Linked DNA regions of Homo sapiens. The protein of the gene in region 5 purifies or fractionates together with the protein of the main gene of each other region. This does not show direct contact. Each region holds a gene or a part of one and is shown on either strand. Other genes may lie near its edges.

Evidence for each region.
Region 1: the proteins of INSIG1 (region 5) and COPG1 purify together in Homo sapiens (affinity purification with mass spectrometry, with the first as the bait; one large-scale study listed by BioGRID). This does not show direct contact.
Region 2: the proteins of INSIG1 (region 5) and TPM3 purify together in Homo sapiens (affinity purification with mass spectrometry, with the first as the bait; one large-scale study listed by BioGRID). This does not show direct contact.
Region 3: the proteins of INSIG1 (region 5) and HSPG2 purify together in Homo sapiens (affinity purification with mass spectrometry, with the first as the bait; one large-scale study listed by BioGRID). This does not show direct contact.
Region 4: the proteins of INSIG1 (region 5) and NSF purify together in Homo sapiens (affinity purification with mass spectrometry, with the first as the bait; one large-scale study listed by BioGRID). This does not show direct contact.
Region 6: the proteins of INSIG1 (region 5) and CKAP2 purify together in Homo sapiens (affinity purification with mass spectrometry, with the first as the bait; one large-scale study listed by BioGRID). This does not show direct contact.
Region 7: the proteins of INSIG1 (region 5) and CLSTN1 purify together in Homo sapiens (affinity purification with mass spectrometry, with the first as the bait; one large-scale study listed by BioGRID). This does not show direct contact.

What each region holds. Positions count from the first base shown.
Region 1 is NC_000003.12:129,252,606-129,256,105, reverse strand, and holds part of COPG1 (coatomer subunit gamma-1), read right to left. Parts: intron 3,484-3,500; coding exon 3,412-3,483; intron 3,231-3,411; coding exon 3,151-3,230; intron 1,439-3,150; coding exon 1,363-1,438; intron 1,122-1,362; coding exon 1,029-1,121; intron 39-1,028; coding exon 1-38. UniProt on the Homo sapiens protein: The coatomer is a cytosolic protein complex that binds to dilysine motifs and reversibly associates with Golgi non-clathrin-coated vesicles, which further mediate biosynthetic protein transport from the ER, via the Golgi up to the trans Golgi network.
Region 2 is NC_000001.11:154,175,101-154,178,600, forward strand, and holds part of TPM3 (tropomyosin alpha-3 chain), read right to left. Parts: intron 3,105-3,500; exon of another isoform or gene 3,014-3,104; intron 1,149-3,013; coding exon 1,015-1,148; intron 1-1,014. UniProt on the Homo sapiens protein: Binds to actin filaments in muscle and non-muscle cells. Plays a central role, in association with the troponin complex, in the calcium dependent regulation of vertebrate striated muscle contraction.
Region 3 is NC_000001.11:21,829,311-21,832,810, forward strand, and holds part of HSPG2 (basement membrane-specific heparan sulfate proteoglycan core protein isoform b precursor), read right to left. Parts: intron 3,297-3,500; coding exon 3,185-3,296; intron 2,487-3,184; coding exon 2,342-2,486; intron 2,253-2,341; coding exon 2,153-2,252; intron 2,015-2,152; coding exon 1,905-2,014; intron 1,781-1,904; coding exon 1,672-1,780; intron 782-1,671; coding exon 683-781; intron 295-682; coding exon 73-294; intron 1-72. UniProt on the Homo sapiens protein: Integral component of basement membranes. Component of the glomerular basement membrane (GBM), responsible for the fixed negative electrostatic membrane charge, and which provides a barrier which is both size- and charge-selective.
Region 4 is NC_000017.11:46,691,669-46,695,168, reverse strand, and holds part of NSF (vesicle-fusing ATPase), read right to left. Parts: intron 2,267-3,500; coding exon 2,101-2,266; intron 1,323-2,100; coding exon 1,248-1,322; intron 695-1,247; coding exon 507-694; intron 1-506.
Region 5 is NC_000007.14:155,304,378-155,307,877, reverse strand, and holds part of INSIG1 (insulin-induced gene 1 protein), read right to left. Parts: intron 1-3,500. UniProt on the Homo sapiens protein: Oxysterol-binding protein that mediates feedback control of cholesterol synthesis by controlling both endoplasmic reticulum to Golgi transport of SCAP and degradation of HMGCR.
Region 6 is NC_000013.11:52,472,478-52,474,802, forward strand, and holds part of CKAP2 (cytoskeleton-associated protein 2), read left to right. Parts: intron 1-1,351; coding exon 1,352-1,607; intron 1,608-2,325. UniProt on the Homo sapiens protein: Possesses microtubule stabilizing properties. Involved in regulating aneuploidy, cell cycling, and cell death in a p53/TP53-dependent manner.
Region 7 is NC_000001.11:9,754,466-9,757,965, forward strand, and holds part of CLSTN1 (calsyntenin-1 isoform 1 precursor), read right to left. Parts: intron 2,046-3,500; coding exon 2,016-2,045; intron 845-2,015; coding exon 649-844; intron 1-648. UniProt on the Homo sapiens protein: Postsynaptic adhesion molecule that binds to presynaptic neurexins to mediate both excitatory and inhibitory synapse formation.

The DNA.
Region 1 (3,500 bases), on a different chromosome or scaffold from region 5:
CAGCGCTTGACCACGTCAAAGCTGCACTTCAGCAGGTGCTGTGGGCAACAGGACACATTAAGGGGCAGGTAGGAAGTGTCCCCATCACACATTCTGGGCCCAGTTCTGGTCTTCCCTCAGACACAGCTCAGGGGCTCGCCACTGTCCTGGTCCTCAGAGACCATGGACAAACTCAGGATGCTCCCACCCTCAATGTCCCTCCCCAAGGCATGGGTCAACACCATCCACCCACGACTCTCTTCAATCACCCCAGAGTTTCTTGGCTGTCTTCACTGAGAAGGGTGGGACTCTCAGGCTTACAGATACAGAAATACTTTATTTTGGCCAGGTGCGGTGGCTCACGCTTTGTAATCCCAGCACTTTGGGAGGCCGAGGCGGGTGGATCACTTGAAGTCAGGAGCTCAAGACCAGCCTGACCAACATGGTGAAACTACGTCTCTACCAAAAATACAAAAATCAGTTGGGCGTGGTGGTGCACACCTGCAATCTCAGCTACTCAGGTGGCTGAGGCATGTGAATCGCTTGAGCCAGGGAGGCAGAGGTTGCAGTGAGCTGAAATCGAGCCATTGCACTCCAGCCTGGGCAACAGAGTGAGACTCTGTCTCAAAAAAAAAAAAAGAAGAAAGAGAGGCCAGGCACAGTGGCTCACGCCTGCAATCCCAGCACTTTGGGAGGCCGAGGCGGGTAGATCATGAGGTCTGTAGTTCAAGACCAGCCTGGCCAAGATGATGAAACCCTGTCTCTACTAAAAACACAAAAATTAGCTGGGCACAGTGGCAGACGCCTGTAATCCCAGCTACTCAAGAGGCTGAGGCAAGAAAATCACTTGAACCCCGGCGGCAGAGGTTGCAGTGAGCCGAGATCGTGGCGCTGCACTCTAGCCTGGGTGACAGAGTGAGACTCCGTCTCAATCAAAAAAAAAAAAAGAAAGAAAGAAACACTTTCTTTTTTCCTACTGGAATGTGACTCTTAAATTTTCTTCAATTTTCTACCCCACCCCCAGCAGGGCTCCAGCAGCAACTACACACCAAGGAAGACACGAGGGCAGAGCTGGAGACACTGGGCACCTTGTCCACAATGGCTTGTTTCATGTAGCGCTCAATAGCCTGCAGCATGGTGCTCTGTGGGCAAAAGGAGCAGGGTGGAAGGAGATCCAGTCAGTCCTTGGCAGCTCTCAGGAGTGCAGGAATGGGGGCAGAGATGAGTATGAGGAGGAAGTAAGCGTTTCTCATGTGCTCCTGCACACTGCCTCCACCCCACATCACCTGGCTCAGTGATAGGGGACACCCCAAAGAATGCAAAAGATGATGCCGAGGCCTCAATCAAGAGGCCAGGAAGCAGGGAGGAACCGGCACGACTCACATCAGTGATCTGGCAGAGGGCTCGCACGGCCGGGCCCCGGTAGTTGTCTTCTTTCCCAGTCATGTCTTTTGTTAGGCTGCAGGGAAGAAGGCATTGTCAGCATGCAGAGAGCCTGGGCCTGTTTACTCCTCTCCAGCTCCCAACACCACCCTTGCCCAGATTACTACACGAGCCTCCTAACCAGTGCTCTCCCTCTATTCCTGCCCCTCCAAGCCTAACTCCACACAGCTGCTGGAGGGAGTTTCATAAGACTCAAAACCAAACAGGTCATCCCCCTGCTTTTGCTAAAAAGTTTCCATAGCTTCCTACTGCCAGTGACCTGAATGTAACTCCTTGAACTTCCCTAACTGGCTATGCTCACTCCTCTCCAGCCTTTGCATGTGCTGTTTCCTCAGCCTGTAGCATTCCTCACCCCTCACCTCCACTCTGTCCTACTCTTTTTTTTTTTGAGACAGAGTCTCGCTTTGTCGCCCAGGCTGGAGCGCAATGGGGTGCGATCTTGGCTCATTGCAACCTCTACATCCCGAGCTCAAGCTCTACTGCCTCAGCCTCCCCAGCAGCTGGGACTACAGGCACATGCCACCATACCCGGCTAATTTTTGTATTTTTAGTAGAGAGGGGGTTTCACTATGTTGGCCAGGCTGGTCTTGAACTCCCGACCTTGTGATCCACCCGCCTCGGCCTCCCAAACTGCTGGGATTACAGGCATGAGCCATCACTCCTGGCTTTTTTTTTTTTTTTTTGAGACGCAGTCTCGTTCTGTCACCCAGGCTGGAGTGTAAGTGGCATGATCTCAGCTCACTGCAACCTCCACCTCCCCAGTTCAAGCAATTCTCCTGCCTCAGCCTCCCCAGTAGCTGGGATTATAGGTGTGCGCCACCACACCTGGCTAATTTTTGTATTTTTAGTAGAAACGGGGTTTCACCATGTTGGCCAGGATGGTCTCAAACTCCTGACCTCAAGTGATCCACCCATCGCAGTCTGTGGATTACATTGTGGATACAGTGCTGGGATTACAGGCATGAGCCACTGCGCCTGTCCTGTCCTACTATTTCTTACTCATCCTTCAGGACTCCACTTAGATCATTCCTCTGGGAGGACTTTCGTAATTCTAATCAAGCTGGATGCTCTTCTGGTCTGCTCTCATAGCCCATAATACTTCCGTGATAAACTATATTACACCCTACCTTAATGGCCTGATGCCTGGTTATTTCTCTGTAAATTCTGGGGCTACAGAGGCCATGTCTATCTTTTTTGTTGCTATATCCCCAGAGCTACACACAGGGACTGACAGACAATATTTTCTAACTGAACCTACAAATCAATGTATGACCCCCACAACCTTAAACTGTGGCAGGAAGAAATAAGAGAACTGAGCCCCAGTTCTTAAGGGCAGTGATTACACTTTAGTCACATCTGTCCCTGAATTGCTTAGCTTAAAGCAGACACCAGTCACTTAGTAAGCAGTATACCGCTTGTACTCTCTTGTTTATTTTTCTTGTGTTCTCTCTTTATACTCAAGAAAGTCTTTGGGAAAGTTCTAAGCTGGTTTGGTTGACTAAGAGAAATCAAGAAAAGGAAGCATTTGTGTCCAAGTCAAGGTCAGAGAATTAAAATAGAAACAGCACACCTGGAGGCTGCCATGGGGTGGGCAGTGGTAACAGGGAAGCTGCCACGGGGTGGGCAGCTGGCAATATGCAACCAAGTCTCACTGTCTGGTACACACAAGAAAAAAATGGTCTGTCAATGGAACCCATCAGAAGAGCCACCCACAACCCCATGACTTGCCTGCTGGTGACAATGATGACATCCTCTGCAATGCAAGACATCTCCTTGATGGTCAAGTAGCACATCCGACGGAGTGTGGGCTGGGAGATAGGTGGGAAAAGCCCTATCAGCCCGGGCTCACCAAGGGCCAGAGTTGGGAGAAGATACCTCCTGTCTCCACAAAGGCAGCCCACACTGACTGGTGGGGCCAGCTCTCTTTGGCCCTCCCACCACCTTGTTACAGCTGCCACCTCTCAAGGAAAGCTGGGTTGAGGCACTTACATCATTGGACTGAAAGAGCTTGGTCATGGCAAAGAAGGCCTCGGTCGCTTCCGTGGTCCCCAGGTGCTCCCCCTGTGTTAATCAAGAAA
Region 2 (3,500 bases), on a different chromosome or scaffold from region 5:
GCGGGAGGATCACAAAGGCAGGAGATCAAGACCATCCTGGCTAATACGGTGAAACCCTGTCTCTACTAAAAATACAAAAAATTAGCCGGGCGTGGTGGCGGACACCTGTAGTCCCAGCTACTTGGGAGGCTGAGGCAGGAGAATGGCGTGAACCCGGGAGGCGGAGCTTGCAGTGAGCCCAGATTGCGCCACTGCACTCCAGCCTGGGCTATAGAGCGAGACTCTGTCTCAAAAAAAAAAAAAAAAAAAAAATTAGCTGGAGAACTTTAAAAACATCAATGCCCAGACCCCTCTTGCAACTGATTCTAATGGAACTGGGATGAGATCTAAGCATCCAGTTTTAAATTCCCCAGTGATTTCCCCCCTCACCCCTACCTATGATTCTAATAATGCAACCAGCGTTGAGAAGGCTTACTAAAAACAGATTGCCAGGCCCCACATCCAAAGTTTCTGATTCAGCAGATCAGCATAGGAGCTGAGAATGTGAATTTTTACCAAGTTCCCAAGTATTGCTGATGCTGCTGGTCTGAGACCTTACTTAGAGAACCTCTGTTTTAGAGAAATTAATCTCACAAATAGAAGCTTATGATCCAGAAAGTAGAAGTCATACTGGTGATCCCATTTTAAGGATCATTAGGCCAATTTGTAAGGAAATACCAATTACAAAAGGGTCACAACATCTAAGTTACCCTTACTGTCTTCAAGGGGACAGAATATGCAGAATAGAAAGGAGATCCTGTGTGATGGAGTTAGTATTTTATTTTTATTGACTGATTGACACAGGGTCTTTCTCTGTCACCCAGGAGTGCAGTGGCGCAATCAGAGCTCACTGTAGCCCCAACTTCCTGGGCTTGAGCCACCCTCCTGCCTCAGCGTCCCAAAGTGCTGGGATTACAGGCGTGAGCCATCACACGCAGCCAGAATTGCTATTTAGAAAACAGGTCTATAAGGAAATCTTGATCAGAACTATTATGAACTTTTAAAATCCACACTCCATCAGGCTTCCCTACACACCTCTCACTCTCATCAGCAGCTTTTTCAGCTTCTTCCAGCTTTTGCAGGGCAGTGGCCAGGCGCTCCTGAGCACGGTCCAGCTCTTCTTCAACCAGCTGGATCCTACGGTTCAAGGAGGCCACCTCAGCCTCAGCCTGCATTTGAAGGAAAGAATGGACAAGGGAAGCAGAGGCATGGAGAAAAGAAGAAATAACTATGACATTAAGATCAGGGTTGACTACCATGAAAAAGCCAGAGTCTCGCAGGGTAGAACTTGTCTTAGCTCAGCTGTTAAAAGATCTAGCAGACATAACTTTATATATATATATTTCCTCCCTTTCCCATCAACGAACTCCCATATGTTCCACAGGAAGAGTGTTTTAAAACTCAGTTCCTTGCCCAGCCCAGTGAGTTAGTACCACCCACTTCCTGGACTCAGTTCAAATTCCTCAACACACTGGAGTCAGAAAAGAAAGTCAATGAAGGGTTCCTTCTGCCTGAGCTCTGGCTTGGAGGCATGTCTCATCCTCAGTAACCTTTCAAGTGTCTCATAAAGCAGGAAAAAAAAAAAAAAAAAAGCAAGGTTTCTTAAAGAGGGTATCCTGACTGGGTGTGGTGGCTCATGCCTGTAATCCCAGTATTCTGGGAGGCTGGGGCGGGTGGATCATGAGGTCAGGAATTTGAGACCAGCCTGGCCAATATGGTGAAACCCTGACTCTAATAAAAAATACAAAAATTAGCCAGGTGTGGTGGCGCGTACCTCTAGTCCCAGCTACTCGGGAGGCTGAGGCAGAAGAATCCCTTGAACCCGGGAGGCAGAGGTTGTACTGAGCTGAGATTGCGCCACTACACTCCAGCCTGGGCAACACGGTGAAACTCCATTTCAAAAAAAAAAAAAAAAAAAGAGGGAATCCTGGATTACCTATTAATTGCTGCTTAACTCAAACCGTTATTCCTATGATCACTTTACCCTAACACATCAGAAGAATAACTAGCCAAGGGAATGTCTTCCAGAATAGCCTTCCAGACTGGAAAGCAAAAGAATGGAATATTGTTGGGATGCCTACTCACCAGCCCTTCAACTTGTGCCCCCGTACTCCTTTTTTAAGTTGGCTACAAGGAGCTGCTTCTGGCTAAAATTATCTGCTTTGATAGCTTTACAAAAAAGAAAGAACATTTCCACCACACCCACTACCATTCCTCCAAATTTCTGAATTTTCTCCTTTCTATTCCTCCAGCCATCCCCTTAGCTTCACCCTCTAATACAGCGACAATCTTCCCCCTGGCCTCCATCTCACAATGAAGTATATAGGTTAGAGTCCAAGTAAACCCATCCTGGATGGGTTTTCTCTAAGAAACAAGGAAAGAAGGAGGCAGCCTGCAGGTGGATGGATAAATTCTAATGGTAGGAAAACCTCTTTCCATGACTGCCTCCCCGCTACCTTTACTGGTGGGAGGTACCCTGACTGCAACAGTATACAAGAATTTAATATGCCCCGCACACCACCCAGTTCAGATGCTTATCCAAGTGCCTGGTAAACACGATCTCTCTTCTATAGCCCAGATTGTGCCTGAATTCTATTACCCTGATTTCTTCCTGGCAGGCAGGAGTTGGTGCAGCTATAGAAACAGCCTGGGCCACTAGCTCCGATGAGGAAGAATATAGACCAAAAGACTCCTTTTTAACCATCAGGACTGGCACAAAAACTTCCACATACAAACATGAGAAGCTGAAGAGACTAGGAAGGGAAGCAGAGGGCTGGGGCTACAATCTAGCCACCAGGCAAAGAAAATCGAGAAGTCAACATAAGCTGAAATCATTAAGAAACCATTTGTGCCTCTAACTACACTACTCAAAACACCACAAAGACAAGTATTCTCTGCTTCTGCCTCTTCCAGAAAAATAGATGTTCTCTGTAACAACACACATTTCTCCTCACAAACCCAACAAGGCCATGGATCAAGAGCAAGTCAGGCTATCAGGCAAGACCTAGGAGACACTGCTAGTAAAATGACTTACCCCCCTCAGACGAAAAATACAACTAGATTTAGAGGAAGCTCATGAAATGTAAGACATCATGCAGCTCACCAGTAGTTACCCAAACTGGAGTAGAAGATAACAGGCTATGGGGCGGGGGTGTACAGTTGCCATGACAGCAAGCTGGCTCAGGCAGTTTCTCCCACAAATCAGCATTTACAATAGAATTCTTAGCAAGGCTGAAAAGGGAGAGGGGGAAAACACATCTTGGTGCCCTCCTAAGAGCATGCACACATGAACAAGCCTGTATCAAAAGCAGAACCTGAGATGGGAGTCCTAGAAAAAGCTTCAGAGACCCCCTCCAGGGTGGAGTGGTAGGGAATGGGACCTTGCCTTTCTCTTTTCTCCTAGCACAGAGGATCAGTTCTCTTTACAATGAAACAAAAGCCTGCAGAATCAAGATCTGATACTTTGTTTAAAGGAACAAGGAAGACAAGCTGACTTTTCCCTCATGAGTCTATGCACAGTG
Region 3 (3,500 bases), on a different chromosome or scaffold from region 5:
CTGGGGCTTGAAGAGCCGAGGGGGGCACAAGGCTTGGTGTGCAGAGCCCCGCATTTGGTGCTGGGTGCTTACCTGACCCCAACTCATAGCGGAACTCCAGGTGGCCGCCCACCATCGCCAGGGACACGAAGTCCTCCACAGGCCCGCTCTTCCCCCCGCTGAACAGCAGGACCCCGTCAGGGGCGAGTGGCTTGAACTCCACGTCCAGGCGTAGCTCGTGGTGTGTGTTGGTGAGGGCGGGCAGTGCCAGGTAGGAGCCAGCACCCGACAGCGAGGGGGTGGTCACTGTCACACCTGCAGCAGCCACAGCTCAGCTGAGGCAGTGGGGATCCTGGACCCTCGGGTGGGGTCCAGCTACTCTGCCTTCCTCTGGGACCCTTGCCTGCCTCACTCTCCAGGCCCAGAGGCTCAGGACCAGTTGGCACCAGCTGCAGTGGCACAGGAGCCCCCCTGCCCTTGCACACGGGGCTGGGAGGAGCTCCAATATGACAGGGGTCCTCTTTGGGGGCCCTCACTCAATAAGGGGCTCAGGCTGGGCAGACATGTGGCCAGGTGACTTCGAGATCCTCTGGCTTGGGAATCGTTTTATCATCCGTAGGGCCCATCATGGCCTCAGAGTGCCCCACCCAGCCTCCCCAGCTGACACTAGGACCCTGGGGGTCTCAGGCCTGGCTCCCCTCACCTTCCTCACACCGCAACCCCGAGCGGCCCAGGTGGCAGCGGCAGGTGTAGCCTCGACCGTCAGGCCGGTTCACACAGGTGGCGTCGGGCCCACAGGCCTCTGGGGGGCACATAGGCCAGTGAAAAGACACGGAGGTGACTCTGGAGGGAGGGGGGTCCTGATGCCAGAGGTCTGCCCATCACACCCCGGGGGGCTGGGCTAGTGAGGGCCAGGCCAGCCTCCTGGGAGGCCTTGGAGGAGGGAACTGAGCAGAGCAAGGCGGGAGCCAGAAGAGGCCACAGGGAGGACTGCAGGGGAAGCAGTCGAGGGACTCTGTGTGTCTGCAGGTTCTTCAGAGACTGGACAGTGTTGGAGGGGGAGCACCTGGTGGCGGGTAATGGGGTGGGCACCTGGGTAATAAGATGGGACTGGGGGCCGGGCGTGGGGGCTCATGCCTGTAATCCCAGCACTTTGGGAGGCCGAGGTGGGTGGATCACCTGAGGTCAGGAGTTCAAGACCAGCCATGGCCAACGTAGTGAAACCCCGCCTCTACTAAAAATGCAAAAAATTTAGCCAGGGGTGGTGGCAGACACTTGTATTCCCAGCTACTCAGGAGGCTGAGGCAGGAGAATCGCTTGAACCCGGGAGGTGGAAGTTGCAGTGAGCTGAGATCGTGCCACTGCACTCCAGCCTGGGCAACAAGAGCGAAACTTCGTCTCAAAAAAAAAAAAAAAAAAAAAAGATGGGCTGGGGGTGGGGGAGTGCCTGGGTGGCGGGGTAGTGGTAAGAATTTGGTCAGCAGGGCTGGAGGAGGGGAAGCAGCAGTGATGGGGTGAGGGCCTTCGGGTAGCAGAGATGGGGGATGGGTACATGGGAGGAGTGGAGAGTGCTCAGGTGAGAGTGGGGGGTGTGGAAGTGCCCCAGTGGTTGAGATGGTGGTGGATATGGGGAGGCAGCAAAGGGAAGAGGCAGGCCCTGGGGCGACAGCGACTGGCGGTCGGGGTGCGTACCTGGATGGCAGTGCAGGGCCTGCGAGTGCTCACAGCGGCTCCCGGTGAAGCCAGCTGGGCAGACGCACACGTAGCTGCTGCTCTCAGAGTCATGGCACTGACCGCCATTCTGCAAAGCAGCCCCCAGAAGTAAGGCCGAGAACATTCAGTACCCCCCATAATCCCCACAGGGGCCAGCCATGGCTAGGGGTGGAGGCCACGGCAGCCAGGTGGTGTGTGGGGTGTGGGGTCACCTGGCAGGGCCGGTCCCGACAGGTGGGGCAGTGGGAGATGCCGTGCGCCGTGAGGTTGAGGTCATGGAAGACGATCTCCTCGCCCTGGATGCGCAGCTCCCGGACACAGCCTGGGAGGTGAGTGGGCAGGATGAGCACAGGGCAGGGTGTCCCAGCCCATACCCTGAGGTGCCCTCCCAGGCTCTCCAGGGCTCTTCCAGCCAGCCAGGTAAGGCCCAGCCTCAGCTGGAGGTGGGGAGGGGGCTCACCTATGAAGCCGCTGCTCAGCCCCGCCTTGGGGATGGCACCATAGTCAGGATAGCCACCCAGGTAGAGTTCCTCGTTCAGATCCAGGCCCTGGAACTTGCCCTGGGGAGGTGGGGAAGTCAGGAATGGCAACAGAGGCTGGGCAAGGGCGGGATGAGGGCTGGAAGTAGCAGTATGGGGTTGGGTCTCACCTGGGAGGTCCCATTGACCGGGGCCAGGTCACCCACAATCAGGGAGCCCTGGGTGAGGCTGCGCAGCAGGGTCACGGTGTGGAAATGGCCCAGGGCCAGTGGTGTGGGATGGCGGATGGTGGCCATGCCTGAGCCTGCATCGAACCTGCTCCGTGGGGCAGGCCGGGGCAGGAGAGAGTGGATAGGGGGTTTGTAAGAAGGGCTAGGGGCCCAGTTGGGTAGAGGGGTCCCAGAGGAGGGATGTCACCACTTCCTGCAGTCCCAGCCCTGGGGCTGTTCCCGTTCCTGTCCCTGTCTTGTCGTCCCTCCCCGTGACCCATCCCCTGGATCTTCTCTCCCCACATCCTTTTGCTGGGAGCTTTCCCAGAGCAGCCCACAGGGACCCCAGGCTCAGCGCCCTGCAGCCTAGCACCTGGCCTCCTTGTTCCTCTGAGGACTCCTCTCTCCCTGTGATCACCTTGTTTCTCTGTTTATGGCTTGTTTATTCTTCCCCAGTGAGAATACACCTCTTCCCACAAGAGCCAGAATTTGGTCTGTTTTGTTTTACCTGTATCAGTGCCTGGCACACATGGGGTGGTCAGCAAATAACTGATGCATGCATGCATGAATGAATGAATGAATGAATGAATCCTGGCCTGCAGCAGTCCCAAGTCTGAGGTTGCACCCTCCTCCACCTGACTGGCATACTATTCCTACTCTAGCAGATTGGGTGGTCACCAAGGGTAACGGCCACATTTTCTCCTTCCTCCAGATCTCCTTTGTATAATGGAGCCCAGGGTAGCACTTGCCAGACCAAAGCCCTGTGTCCAGTCCCCCTGTAGGTGGGGAGGCTGGGGGTCTCACCGGAACTCGGGCCTTCCCCCCACGAGGCCGAAGGAGATGAAGTCGGGCTGCCGGTTGGCCAGGTTGGTGGGGCTCCCTGGGACTCGCTTCTGCCCATTGTACAGCAGCATCCCTGGGTGGGCACCACTGTGTAAGGGGCCCCCTTCCAGCCACAGGCTCCCTGTCCTCCCCCACCCTAGAAACCACCCAAGCTCTTGAGCCTGTCCACTCTCGGAACCTGTCCCTCCCTCTGGCACTCCTCACACAGCCAGGGCCTTCTCACTATCTCAGGGCTGGTGCCCCAAACGCAAGGGCCTTACTGAGCGCCCCTAGAAAG
Region 4 (3,500 bases), on a different chromosome or scaffold from region 5:
GTTCACACCATTCTCTTGCCTCAGCCTCCCGAGTAGCCGGGACTACAGGTGCCCGCCACCATGCCCGGCTAATTTTTTGTATTTTTAGTGGAGACGGGGTTTCACCGTGTTAGCCAGGATGGTCTCGATCTCCTGACCTTGTGATCCGCCCGCCTCAGCCTCCCAAAGTGCTGGGATTACAGGCATGAGCCACCATGCCTGGCCATATTACAACTTTTAATACAATACAAAGATTTAAAAACACTTCTTCAAAATTTTCACTTTACGTGTCTGTGTCAGATGGTGATGACCTAAGGTAGATGAGTCAGTGGTTACTACAGGGCAGATGCAAACATTATCTTCCTTCCTGCTACTCTGAAGATTTAGCAGTTGACAATTAATTCTTATTCCTTTTACCATCTCTTCTCCACCAAAAGTCAGCATTTCCCTACCCCTTGATATGCTTGAAAGGAAAGAGAAAGAATACTGGCATAATGTTTATAATCTGTTTAGCTGATTTTCCTGACCTTTATGTGTCTATTCATAGCAGTGGACTGGGCTGCTCGCACCAGACCCTCCAATTCAGCACCACTGAAATTCTTGGTCTCCACGGCCAGTTCTTTAATGTCTACATCAGCAGAGAGTAACTGATGCCCTCTCATTCTTGCTGTGTGGATGTGAAGAATCTGTAGTCGGCCTTTCTCATCTGGCAAGCCTGATGAAATTAAAAATAAAATAGGCATTTTCCTAGTCTCGAAAGCACCATCAGAGGAGATTATCATTATTATTATTACTATTATTTTGAGACAGAGTCTCGCTCTGTTTCCCAGGCTGGAGTGCAGTGGTACGATCTCAGCTCACTGCAACCTCTGCCTCCTGGATTCAGGCGATTCTCCTATCTCAGCCTTCCGAGTAGCTGGAATTACAGGTGCACACCACCACACTCGGCTAAGTTTTTTGTATTTTTAGTAGAGAAGGGGTTTCACCATCTTGGCCAGGCTGGTCTCGAACAACTGGCCTCAAGTGATCCACCTGCCTCAGCCTCCCAAAGTGCTGGGATTACAGGTGTGAGCCACTGCGCCCAGCCTAGAGGAGATTATTATGATCCTAATGTTTTCCTTATAGGTACTCAAGCATGTAAACATCTACTTCTCATGATATAAACCTTTTCTAAAAAATACTACACCATATGACATTGTTCCTGTTAATGAACTCTAAATGCCTCCACTCCCCCCACCACACACCCAATCAGTGACAGATCTCCTTACCTATCTCCATTTTAACTTCCAGTCTTCCAGGTCTAAGAAGAGCCTCATCTATCAGATCTGGTCTATTGGTCATTCCTGAACACAGATGTTAAAACAAAACAACAAATGATCAGAGTTCAAAAATAAAATCAAATGTCCTTTTAGTATATGTAAGAATAGTAATTTCCCTAACAAGCTAAGGAGACTTTGCTTTACTATTTCACTACTGTATAAGCCAATGGAATATAAATGTTATGAAAACTTCCAGTATTTAAAAAGAAAATTTAAGATTCAAAGGGTAAATAATCTGTCAAAGTGACAGAGGGGCAATGTGACACGATCTCTCTGACTCCAAAGTTCCTTCTCTTTTTTACAGGCCAGTGGTTTTCAGACTTCATAAAACAGCAGGGTGTTTTTTTTTTTTTTCCCCCAGAAGTCATCTTCAGAAGCACCTCAGTACATAAAACAGCTAAAAGAGGAAGTTATAATAGTGATGTAGGATCTGAAACGCACTCCCTGGCCCTCACTGACCCTGAAAGCACCTCTGAGGACCCCCGAAGGCCTGCAAGACCCAGTTTGAAAACCACTGCATTCCATTGTTTCATGTGTATTTTTCATTTTTGGGTGAGCTATAAGCTTCAACCTACATCTTTTTCACCTGTGGGTGAGCTATAAGCTTAAACCTACAAGTGACTGAAATCCATCTTTTATTTTTCCTATTAAGCCTAGGCATTACAATAGATTCTTCAATATCACTGGATTCTAATTTGGAAACACTGGCAAAACAGTTTAATCACAACCTACACACATCTTAATTCAGAACTTATGGCTAACGTTTTTGAATGAATAGTACTTTTTTAAAAAGTAAACATACCAATGACTAGGATGTTGTTTAGCTGCTCCACGCCATCAATTTTGGACAGCAACTGGTTGACAACAGTGTCATGAACTCCCGTGCTACCAGCCATGCTCCCTCTCTGCTTGCAGATGGCATCAATTTCATCAAAGATGATGATGTGCAAACCACTGTTAGCACCAAGCTATTAGGGGAAGAAATTATATTAAAGATCATAATTTGAATGTCTTATTAAACAAACTAATCAGAAAAACAAAACAAAGCTTTCAACAGATTGACTTCACTTCATTTTGACTAATAAATATGGCAAGTGCAATTGTGGTTGTTGTCCTCTCAAAGGTGTTGGAACTAGATTCTCAGAATTCTGCAAACTGAAAACTCATTCTAGAACCTCATATTTAATAGCTATAAAATGAAAATACACATTATATACTGATAGTGTGTGTGTATAGATAGAAAGTAAGTAGTCGATCAAATAATTTATATACATTTCTTATCTCACTATTTGAAAGACCTTACATTTGTCAGATACTTTCATTAAGTCAGTCAGTGGCAACACCCTCCCATTTTCCCTGAGTTTTGGTGAGAAGACTGTCCCAGAAGCAGTAGGTTTAATGTTTGTTTCGTTATATTATGTAACTAAAGGTTAACTCCACCTACAGGTTGACTGGGAATTGGACAAATGAGTGAAGAAACTCAACATGACTCACATGTACTTATATTACATGAAAACAGATTACGCCTTCCTAACAATAAAGTGAGAACAGAGACGGTTTATAAAAAGAACATGGTTAACAGGGTGCTGTTTCTTCTGCATAATGATTTCTGCCTTAGTTTACTAGAAATAGAATCACCATTAAAAGAAATTAGTTTGTATATTTTGAATCTTTAACAGATACAAACACTTCTGAATGCTACTAATTCATTAGGTTAATTTAACACGTACCTTCTAAAATTTATATTTAAGTAATTTAGTCTCCTATCAGGGAGTAAAGTGCACTCTGGAAATTTTTTCTTTTATAAACAAAAAACACGGCCGGGTGCGGTGGCTCCTGCCTGTAATCCCAGCACTTTGGGAGGCAGAGGAGGATGGATCAACTTAGGTCAGGAGTTCGAGACCAGCCTGGCCAACATGGTGAAACCCTATCTCTACTAAAAATACAAAAATTAGCTGGGTGTGGTGGCAGGTGCCTGTAATCCCAGCTACTCTGGAGGCTGAGGCAGGAAAATCACCTGAACCCAGGAGGCAGAGGTTGCAGTGAGCCGAGACTGCACCACTGCACTCCAGCCTGGGCGACAGAGTGAGACTCCGTCTCAAAAACAAAAAATACTAGGGATTAACAAAACTGGTAAAAAATGAACATAACCTAAATATGACAACATACGGATAATAAAAATTAAATGAGCATAATGAGACT
Region 5 (3,500 bases):
TTTATCAAAGCATGGTGATGCTTAGGGTATGATAGGTTCCTGAAAGTTCTAACTGCAATTTAAGGGATTGAACCTTTATCTGAAGGGAGGTTTCTGCCACAAACCTTTATTAGTATCTGATGCCTGTGTTATAACCCACCTTACCAGCAGTTTGTTGAAACAGACATTGGAAATAGGTCATGCTTTGTAATACTGAAGCTCTGTGTGCCCTCAATTCACACAGAGCTTCACAGTTGGGAAATCCTTTCTACATGTTCTTCCTCATCTGACCCTCACAGAGCTTCTGAGAGGTAGACACTACAGTTACTACTATGACCAGGCACCTCAGGGTAAATTCTTAATGGAGAACAGTATTTCACTGATGAAGAAGCAAAGCCAGAGAGATTAAATGACCTTCCTGAGGCCACGGAGCTTCTGCTAAAGGGCAAAAGAGAAACCTCCATACAGAATTTTTTTCCCTCAGAATCGTGACTTCCCACGTTACTTAATTGCCCTCCACTCACTTTAAGAGGAAGGAGCTGAGCTCCTCACCTTCAGCAATGACGGAGATTACTCATCCAGAAAACAGCAAGAGCCTCTCATCTGAACAGACAGGTAAGAAAGTCATGAGTCTGGGTTGAGTCACCCAGGTATGCCAGTTACTACCCTGGGGACACACACAATAAGACCTTCTAGGAAACATACATGCTTTTAGGAATTGATCATGTGAAAGCACTGCCAATTTTTAGATATGAACACTGGGAGGGTTCTATACAAACTGCGGTGAGAAAACAAAAGAGCAAACTCTTGGCAGCAACCTGGAAAGAAAACTGGTCATCACATTTGACTCCCTGTTCACTAATGTGCTGATAAATAAATGGGAAGTGGACTTTTAGAATCCCTGGTCGACAGAGGCCACAGTGAGGCCTGGCAAAGACGCCAGAGACGAACGACAGCCAGCCCGGGCGGACCTGACACGTGGCACAGGGACTTCCAGCAGTGTTGCCTAATGGTGGCACATTGTAAATGGCAACCCAGACACCAACACAGGCTGCTGTAAACCTGCTTCCAGGGTGAAGGCAGGTGCGAGCTATGTGTTGAAAGGGCAGTGTGGTATGCTAATGAGAAGCACGGTGCCACGTCGACCTCTGCCACCCACTTGGCCAAGTTGTTTAATCTTCCTAAGCTGCAATTTCCCCTTTTAAAAATGGGCTAATAATAGTTTCTACTTCAAAGACTTGTGTTATGAGGACTAAACTGGCTAACAATGGAAACGCTCAGCACAATGCCTCCTGTGCAGCAGTAAGAGCCCAACAAATGTAAACCCTCAATAACAATAATAGTATTATTATCATTAGCAGCTGAATTGGGTCAATCAAAAACAGGAACGGCAAATCAAATCCCAAGCTGACACTGAGGTGGGCGGGACTCTGCCTCCAGGTGGCCCAGTGGGGCCGGGCAGTGGCAGCAGGACAGGCTTGATTGCTGTTGGCAGTTTGCAGCTTACTCTTGAGAAAGGACTTGAAGCTACAAACAGCAACAACTACAAGTTCTATAAATGATGGTTACAGACTCATTTTCTTTTAAACATACAGGCTGGGCCGGGCGCGGTGGCTCATGCCTGTAATCCCAGCACTTTGGGAGGCAGAGGCAGGTGGATCACCTGAGGTCAGGAGTTCGAGACCAGCCTGGCCAACGTGGCGAAACCCCGTCTCTACTAAAAACAGAAAAATTAGCCAGGTGCGGTGGTGGGCGCCTGTGATCCCAGCTACTTGGGAGGCTGAGGCAGGATAATCATTTGAACCTGGGAGACGGTTCAAATGCAGTGAGCCAAGATTGTGCCACTGCACTTTAGTCTGGGTGACAAAGCAAGACTCCGTCTCAAAAAAAGTAAAAATAAAAACAAACAAAAAGCAAACAAAAAAACCGTAACAGGCTGATAACAAATGTTTCTGCTGTATTTTCGGACACAAAGGACAACGGCATGTGTGGGGGGAAATACCACATAGAAAAAGCTAGGAGACCATATAACTTGAAGCAAAGCCAACTTGTAACTTTTGAGCATGGTTATTCTTGCAAGTAACTATGTTTCTTCTTAAGGGAGGGAAGCATAAGTTAGAACAAAGGCATCTGAAGAGAACTGAGACAGCTAAGAAGGAGAGGGTGTGGAGTGCACTGGGCAAAACCATCAGCACCAAACACAGACCTCAAATTACCCTGGATCTGGGCGGGTCTGGTCCCGGTGCTGAACTGAGCCTCGGAATCTCTTCACCTTCAGACTGTCAACAACTTCACTCTCGTCATCTCCCTTCACAAAGCCTTACTTGGTGTAGGTTTCAACCTTAAACCAATAGCTCTTAGACACTATCCCTGGAACATTCAGCCACTTCCATTTTGTGAGTCAACAGTATGACAAGAGTGGAATGTGGGGAAGGCTGCCCTGGGAGAAAACACGCACCACGAATGCAACCTGGGGCACAGCCTGAGGAACGGATGCAGCAGGAGGGAGGGGACTGCACTGTGAAGCCCCTGGGCCATTTCCGGGGTTTGATGGATAGAAATGAGTTTGCAAATTTTGAAGTGAAAAAAAGAGTAACAGTTGGGATCCAGAGGTAAGGATTTAAGTATTTATGAATAAAAACAGTGGTAGGCGGGTTAGGCTTAGAACCTCAGAGGTCAGTTTCATGTGATAGCCCAGCAGGGAAGGGGATTAAGGTGGTGATCTCTCTTCTCCAGTTTTTTTTTTTTTTTTTGAGACAGAGTCTTGCTCTGTCACCCAGGCTGGAATGCAGTGGCACAATCTCGGCTCATTGCAAGCTCTGCCTCCCGGGTTCACGCCATTCTCCTGCCTCAGCATCCCAAGCAGCTGGGACTACAGGTGCCCACCACCACGCCTGGCTATTTTTTTTTTTTTTTTGTATTTTTAGTACAGACGGGGTTTCACTGTGTTAGCCAGGATGGTCTCGATCTCCTGACCTCGTGATCCGCCCGCCTCAGCCTCCCAAAGTGCTGGGATTAAAGGCGTGAGCCACCGCGCCCAGCCTCTCTCCTCCAGTTTTAAGATACGAGAACATCCAAACATTTTCCCCCAAGCTTAAAGAATAAAAAGGATGAAGAGAAAGCTGAAGTAAGGAGAATTATAATTACACCAACTATCCTATTTTGAGTTATCTTTAACATTTTTTTCTGTAAGCAAAGGAGCACAGCAGGGATTACTTAATGAAACTATCTTCAAAACGAAAATGTTTCCTCCAACCATTTCTAGATGTTTAGAACTTATGAATGTTGTGAAATTTCTACCTCCACCAAAATAATGCTTATTTCTTAAAACCGATTTAAAAAGCCTTGACATATAACAGCACCAACCTATCAAACAGAAATAACCAACTCTTTAAATGTTATTCAAGTTGTAGTTATAATGTGTAATTAGTCAATCTGGTTGAGGACAATTTTATTCTAAAAACCTTCTTAGGAATTCTCTCCCAAAGAGTACCGAAACAAAAATCTCAAAGCAAGAAAGC
Region 6 (2,325 bases), on a different chromosome or scaffold from region 5:
TAATTAAATTCAGAGGTTTTTTTTTCCAGCTCAATGGATTCACCAGGATGTCTCACAAGTATTTCCAGCCTAACATGTTTTATTTTGAACTCTTTGTCTGCCCTCACTGCTTTCCCATGCCCAGTATCCCTTTCCCATACCCAACATCCCTTTCTCCCAAAAAAGAAAAGAAAAAACTCTTCTCTGGCATTTATGACTCTTAAGAAATGTTGGATAAGACGCTCCTAATACATTTGCACACTCATTCCTACACAGTCATGTATTCATTTGTTAATAAGTTCTGACTTGGGTGGGTGTGGTGGCTCACGCCTATAATCCCAACACCAGAAGTCCAAGGTGGAAGAATCGCTTGAGGTCTAGAATTCGAGACCATCCTTGGCAACATAGTGAGACCCCATCTCTACAAAAAGTAAAAATTAGCTGGGTATGGTGGTACACACCTTTAGGCCCAGCTACTTGGGAGGCTTTGGCAGGAGGATCACTTGAACCTGGGAAGTTGAGGCTGCAGTGAGCTAAGATTATGCCACTGCACTCCATCCTAGGTGACAGAACGGCAGACACCCTGTCTCTAAAAAAAAAAAAAAAATGTTCTCAGAAATATTTCTCAGATTGGACCCTTCCTTTCCTATCTGATCTCTTCCTAACTTACTTAGGCTATTACAACAACCTTGTCTTCTTGCCATCACAGATTGTTACTTTTCATTCTCTGCCATTCTAGACAGTCCTTTACATTGACCAAATTTAATTATGTCTGTCTCTGGTGAATTTTTTTTACCAAACTTCTTTCATATAAAGCTCATTACAATCTAGCTCTCTGGTGAATTTTTTTTACCAAACTTCTTTCATATAAAGCTCATTACAATCTAGCTCTTGTTTACCTATCTAAGCTCAATACCTCCTGCTCCCACTCCTAACCTTGTTCCTTACCCTATATTCTAAACACACTGGCTCTTTAATGTTATGTTAATTTAATAGATCATTTTCTTTTATGTGCCATATGAAGGTTGTCTTCCTTGGTCTTGATCAAGTACTCATTTTTAAGACCCAGCCTAAATCTCGCTTGTGAAGCATTCCCTAACCATCTCCCTATACCACAGGCAAAGTTAGTTGTTTCTTTTTGTGGGTTTTAATAATCCTTTGTTCTTATTTCATATATAGCATTTATTTCATTTTATAATAGTATTTGTTATATAGTTGGCAGCAGTATTTGCTGAGGAAAAGGAATGGTTCAGAGATGGCAATCGTGTTCTTTTATTTTGAAAATGTGGCCAACTAGGAACAACTTTAATGTCTTCTGATTTTGTTCTTAAAATTCAGCCAAAAGCTTAATCTATAAATGTATTTTCTATAGGAGAAAATATGGAGAAGTCTTGTGCAAGCAAGGAAGAAGTCAAAGAAGTCAGTATTGAAGATACAGGTGTTGATGTAGATCCAGAAAAACTGGAAATGGAGAGTAAACTTCATAGAAATTTGCTATTTCAAGATTGTGAAAAAGAGCAAGACAACAAAACAAAAGATCCAACCCATGATGTTAAAACCCCCAATACAGAAACGAGGACAAGTTGCTTAATTAAATATAATGTGTCTACTACGCCATACTTGCAAAGGTAAACTTTTAAAATGTACCATGATTTGTTTTCATGCTTGGAGATAATAAATAACGGCATTTAAAAATCTTTGAGATAGCTTCAGATTACAGCTACCATTTATTAATATAGAAATTTCAGTACGGGCATGGTGGCTCACGCCTGTAATTTCAGCACTTTGGGAGGCCGAAGCAGACAGATCACTTGAGCCCAGGAGTTCAAGACTATCCTGGGCAACATGGCAAAACCCCATCTCTACAAAAAATAAAAAAAATTTTGGCTGGGCAAGGTGCTGTGTGCCTGTAGTCCCAGCTACCTGGGAGGCTGAGGTGAGAGGATCACTTGAGCCCAGGAGGCAGAGGTTGCAGTGAGCCAAGATCATGCCACTGTCCTCCAGCCTGGATGACAGAGCGAGACCCTGTCTCAAAACAAAAAAGAAAACAGAAAAGTTTTTAAACAAATAGAATGTCATTAGAACATTTCACCTCTTAAATACTGTATTTACTTTCCCTAACTATTGCCATTTTGAAAAAGAAAACTTTTATTTGAATTTACTTTAATCTGTGTGTTATTAATAACAGTAGGTTTTGGCTTTCAGGAATTAGCCAGTTCTACAGATACTCAGGTATCTACTGTATACAAGTTGTAATGACAAATTGAGAAAAGGATAAGTTTCTCACTTCGGTGAGCTTATAGTACCTCTCTAAAAGACAATTAAATGCTTTTACCTGCTTATAAC
Region 7 (3,500 bases), on a different chromosome or scaffold from region 5:
GAAAAATCACTTGAAACCGGAAGGCGGAGGTTCCAATGAGCCAAGATCGTGCCACTACACTCCAGCTTGGGTGAAACAGCGAAACTCCATCTCAAAAACAAAACACAAAAAGGCCAGGTACGGCTCACGCCTATAATCCCAGCACTTTAGGAGGCCCAGGCAGGCGGATCACCTGAGGTCGGGAGTTTGAGACCAGCCTGACCAACATGGAGAATCCCCATCTCTACTAAAAATACAAAATTAGCTGAGCGTGGTGGCGCATGCCTGTAATCCCAGCTATGTGGGAGGTTGAGGCAGGAGAATCGCTTGAACCCAGGAGGCGGAGGTTGCGGCGAGCCAAGATCATGCCATTGCACTCCAGCCTGGGCAACAAGAGCAAAACTCCATCTCAAAAAACAAACAAAAACAACCCCAAAAAACCTAATATGCCTAATGTGAGCAAGGCTCTTGCTAGAAACTGTATACAAGGGTAGAGAGACATGATTCCTGCCCTCCAAGTGTTTACAATCTAATTGTAGACACTTGAGAACTATCTTCTGCCTATTTCAAAAACAGTCTTGGGGAGCAGGCAATAGTCACTACTATTTTCGTTCTGCGCACACACGTTTACTCGGTGGGTTATGTTCACTCTTTGTCCAGCTTACTTACTTATGAGACTTTTTCACGTTGGTGCCATCAGGTCCCTTCCCACAATCATAGGCCTGGATGGTGAATGAATAGTCTTTCTGCAGCTCACAGTCCAGTTTCTCTTTGGAGCGAATGACTCCCTCACCAGTGGATTTATCCACTACCACTGCATCAAAGGGGACATTCTGCCCGTGAATTTTAAATCCACAAATCTCACCTAGGGAGTCAAAGCAGAACAGGTAAGAATTCCTACCACATAGATCTTCTGCACCTTGCCCTCCTCCCCCCATCTCCACCCCCAAAGAAAATAAATGACAACAATTTGGCAGCCAGGGGTTTGGAGGGTCCGTGGACAAAGCAGGGGCACTGTGTTTTAAACATGGGGAAGTTCTCGGGCTTTAGTAAGATGAAGCAGATTCTGGCTTTCCAAGCAACTTGTTTACTTTGCATCCATTCATGCAGGAATACAAAAGAGAGAGAGAAGAAAATATAGACAGGCATTCCACAGGAGCACTTAGATAGCTCGAGGGTAAAAGGAGTCTCATTAGCACACAGCCAGGCCTGAGAACACCAGCGCTGCCCCAGCTCCTGGGAGGGCTGGCAGCCAGTTTGATTTGGACCAGAGAGAAGCTAAAACGCAGTTATGTGTTGAGAGAGGAGGAAGCGTGAGATATAGGATCAGCACCGTAATTACAGAAATTCTGTCAAAAAAAAAAATCAAAGGAAACAAGTCTTCCTGTGCAATGAGCCTGGCTAAAATTAGGGAATCAAAACAAACTACTCAATGAGAAAGGTAGAAATACCGACTCGTCAGGCATCCATTTCAACAGCTATTTTATCATCTACGATTCAGACACAGTTTCTATTATGGGAGGGACTGGCTAGACTTGCCTTTGTTTCGGACTTTATCCTATCAAACCTGAAAAAGACACCAGCCTGGGAACTTCTCTACATCTAAATTGGCTCACAACTTAATTAGGAGTTAAAAATCTATGTTTCCATTCTTGTCCATGGGAGAACAGTATAAATGTTTTGATGTCGATGTGAAACTCCACAAAATGTATTTCACATGAAAATAAGACTGCACTCCTTCCACAATTCCAACTAATAGAAAATTGTTATAAAGCAAATCTCTGAAGTTCTATTAAACAAAAATGTACAGTGTTATCCATACAGTTCAAATGGATGTCTGATTTCCAGATATTTCTAACCAAGGGTCTGGTTACATACAATTTCCATCAATATACTTTAAAATAGAAACAAAGTAGGAGAATAAATAAGGATAAAAGAGCATGACAGTTTCTCCTGTTTAAGGGCTGATTCCCAATTTTATAAACAAAGTTAGTGGGTTAATATTCATAAGAGGGGAAGAAAGAACCCTTTATCACCTTCTTTGGTGACTGTCACCTCAAAACTCTCTAAAGGGAGAAAAGATAAGCCCATGTCAGTAATACAGGAAAGAATGAAGATGGAATACACTAAGGAAAAAAGTCAAAGGTGCACATATTACACATTTCCACACCAAGCTCAGCGACCGGCTTCTACGATTGCTACAGCAAAACCTAATCTTCAGGAACAAAATGTCACTTTGAATCCAACTTACCATGAACTACTGCATAATTCTGAAGTTATTAATTTAGGGATGAAATACTCCTACATGAAGTGTCCTAACACCCTCAGGGGTCATTAGGATTTTTCTTTTTTTTGAGACAGAGTCTCGCTCTGTCACCCAGGCTGGAATGCAGTGGTGCTATCTCGGCTCACTGCAAGCTCCGCCTCCTGGGTTCACCATTCTCCTGCCTCAGCCTCCCGAGTAGCTGGGACTACAGGCGCCCGCCACCACGCCCGGATAATTTTTTGTATTTTTAGTAGAGACAGGGTATCACCATGTTAGCCAGGATGGTCTCGATCTCCTGACCTCGTGATCCGCCCACCTCGGCCTCCCAAAGTGCTGGGATTACAGGAGTGAGCCCCCGTGCCCGGCAGGATTTTTCTTTTAATGAACACTCTAGTGACAAACCATGAATAAGTACATCTATTTGTTATTTTGCAGTTTTCAGATGTTCATTTCCAACCTAAATTCTCTCAGCTAGATTCTGGTAACATTCAACTCATCAGTAGATTTAATGAAACAAAAATTTGGAGCAAAAGGTTTTTTTTTTTTTTTGAGATGGAGTCTTGCTCAGTCGCCCAGACTGGAGTGCAGTGGCGTGATCTCGGCTCACTGCAAGCTCCGCCTCCCTGGTTCACGCCATTCTCCTACCTCAGCCTCCCGAGTAGCTGGGACTACAGGCGCCCGCCACCACGCCCAGTTAATTTTTTGTATTTTTAGTAGAGACAGGGTTTCACCATGTTAGCCAGGATGGTCTCGATCTCCTGACCTCATGATCCACCCGCCTCGGCCTCCCAAAGTGCTGGGATTACAGGCGTGAGCCACCGCACCCAGCCGAACAAAAGGTTTTAACCCTTTGTTCTTGAACTGAAAAAAATGACAATATTTTTCTAATCCAAAGTACCCAACCAAGGCAACAAATATAAACCCCTCTGCTAATGGAACATCTGCTTAAATGTGAATAGAAACCAGATTCAAAACTAACTGTAGGGATGCTACAACAGTCACTGTTCTCATTACATGAAAGCTCTGTTCTACCAAGTCAATATATATCCTGCTTATAAACCCTTTACTATGGAGGAGTGGAAATGTGAAGAGATCAGGAATTTCGCTGCCCCTCAACACACTGGGCCCTCACTGGTGGCACCTTCTCTCCCCCAAAGGTAACACGACCTGAATTCCCTTGCTTTGCTAATAGTGCTACCATTTATTCTCCCTGAACAGTGTTGTTTCATTTTGCTTGGTTTTAAGGTTTTAAAAA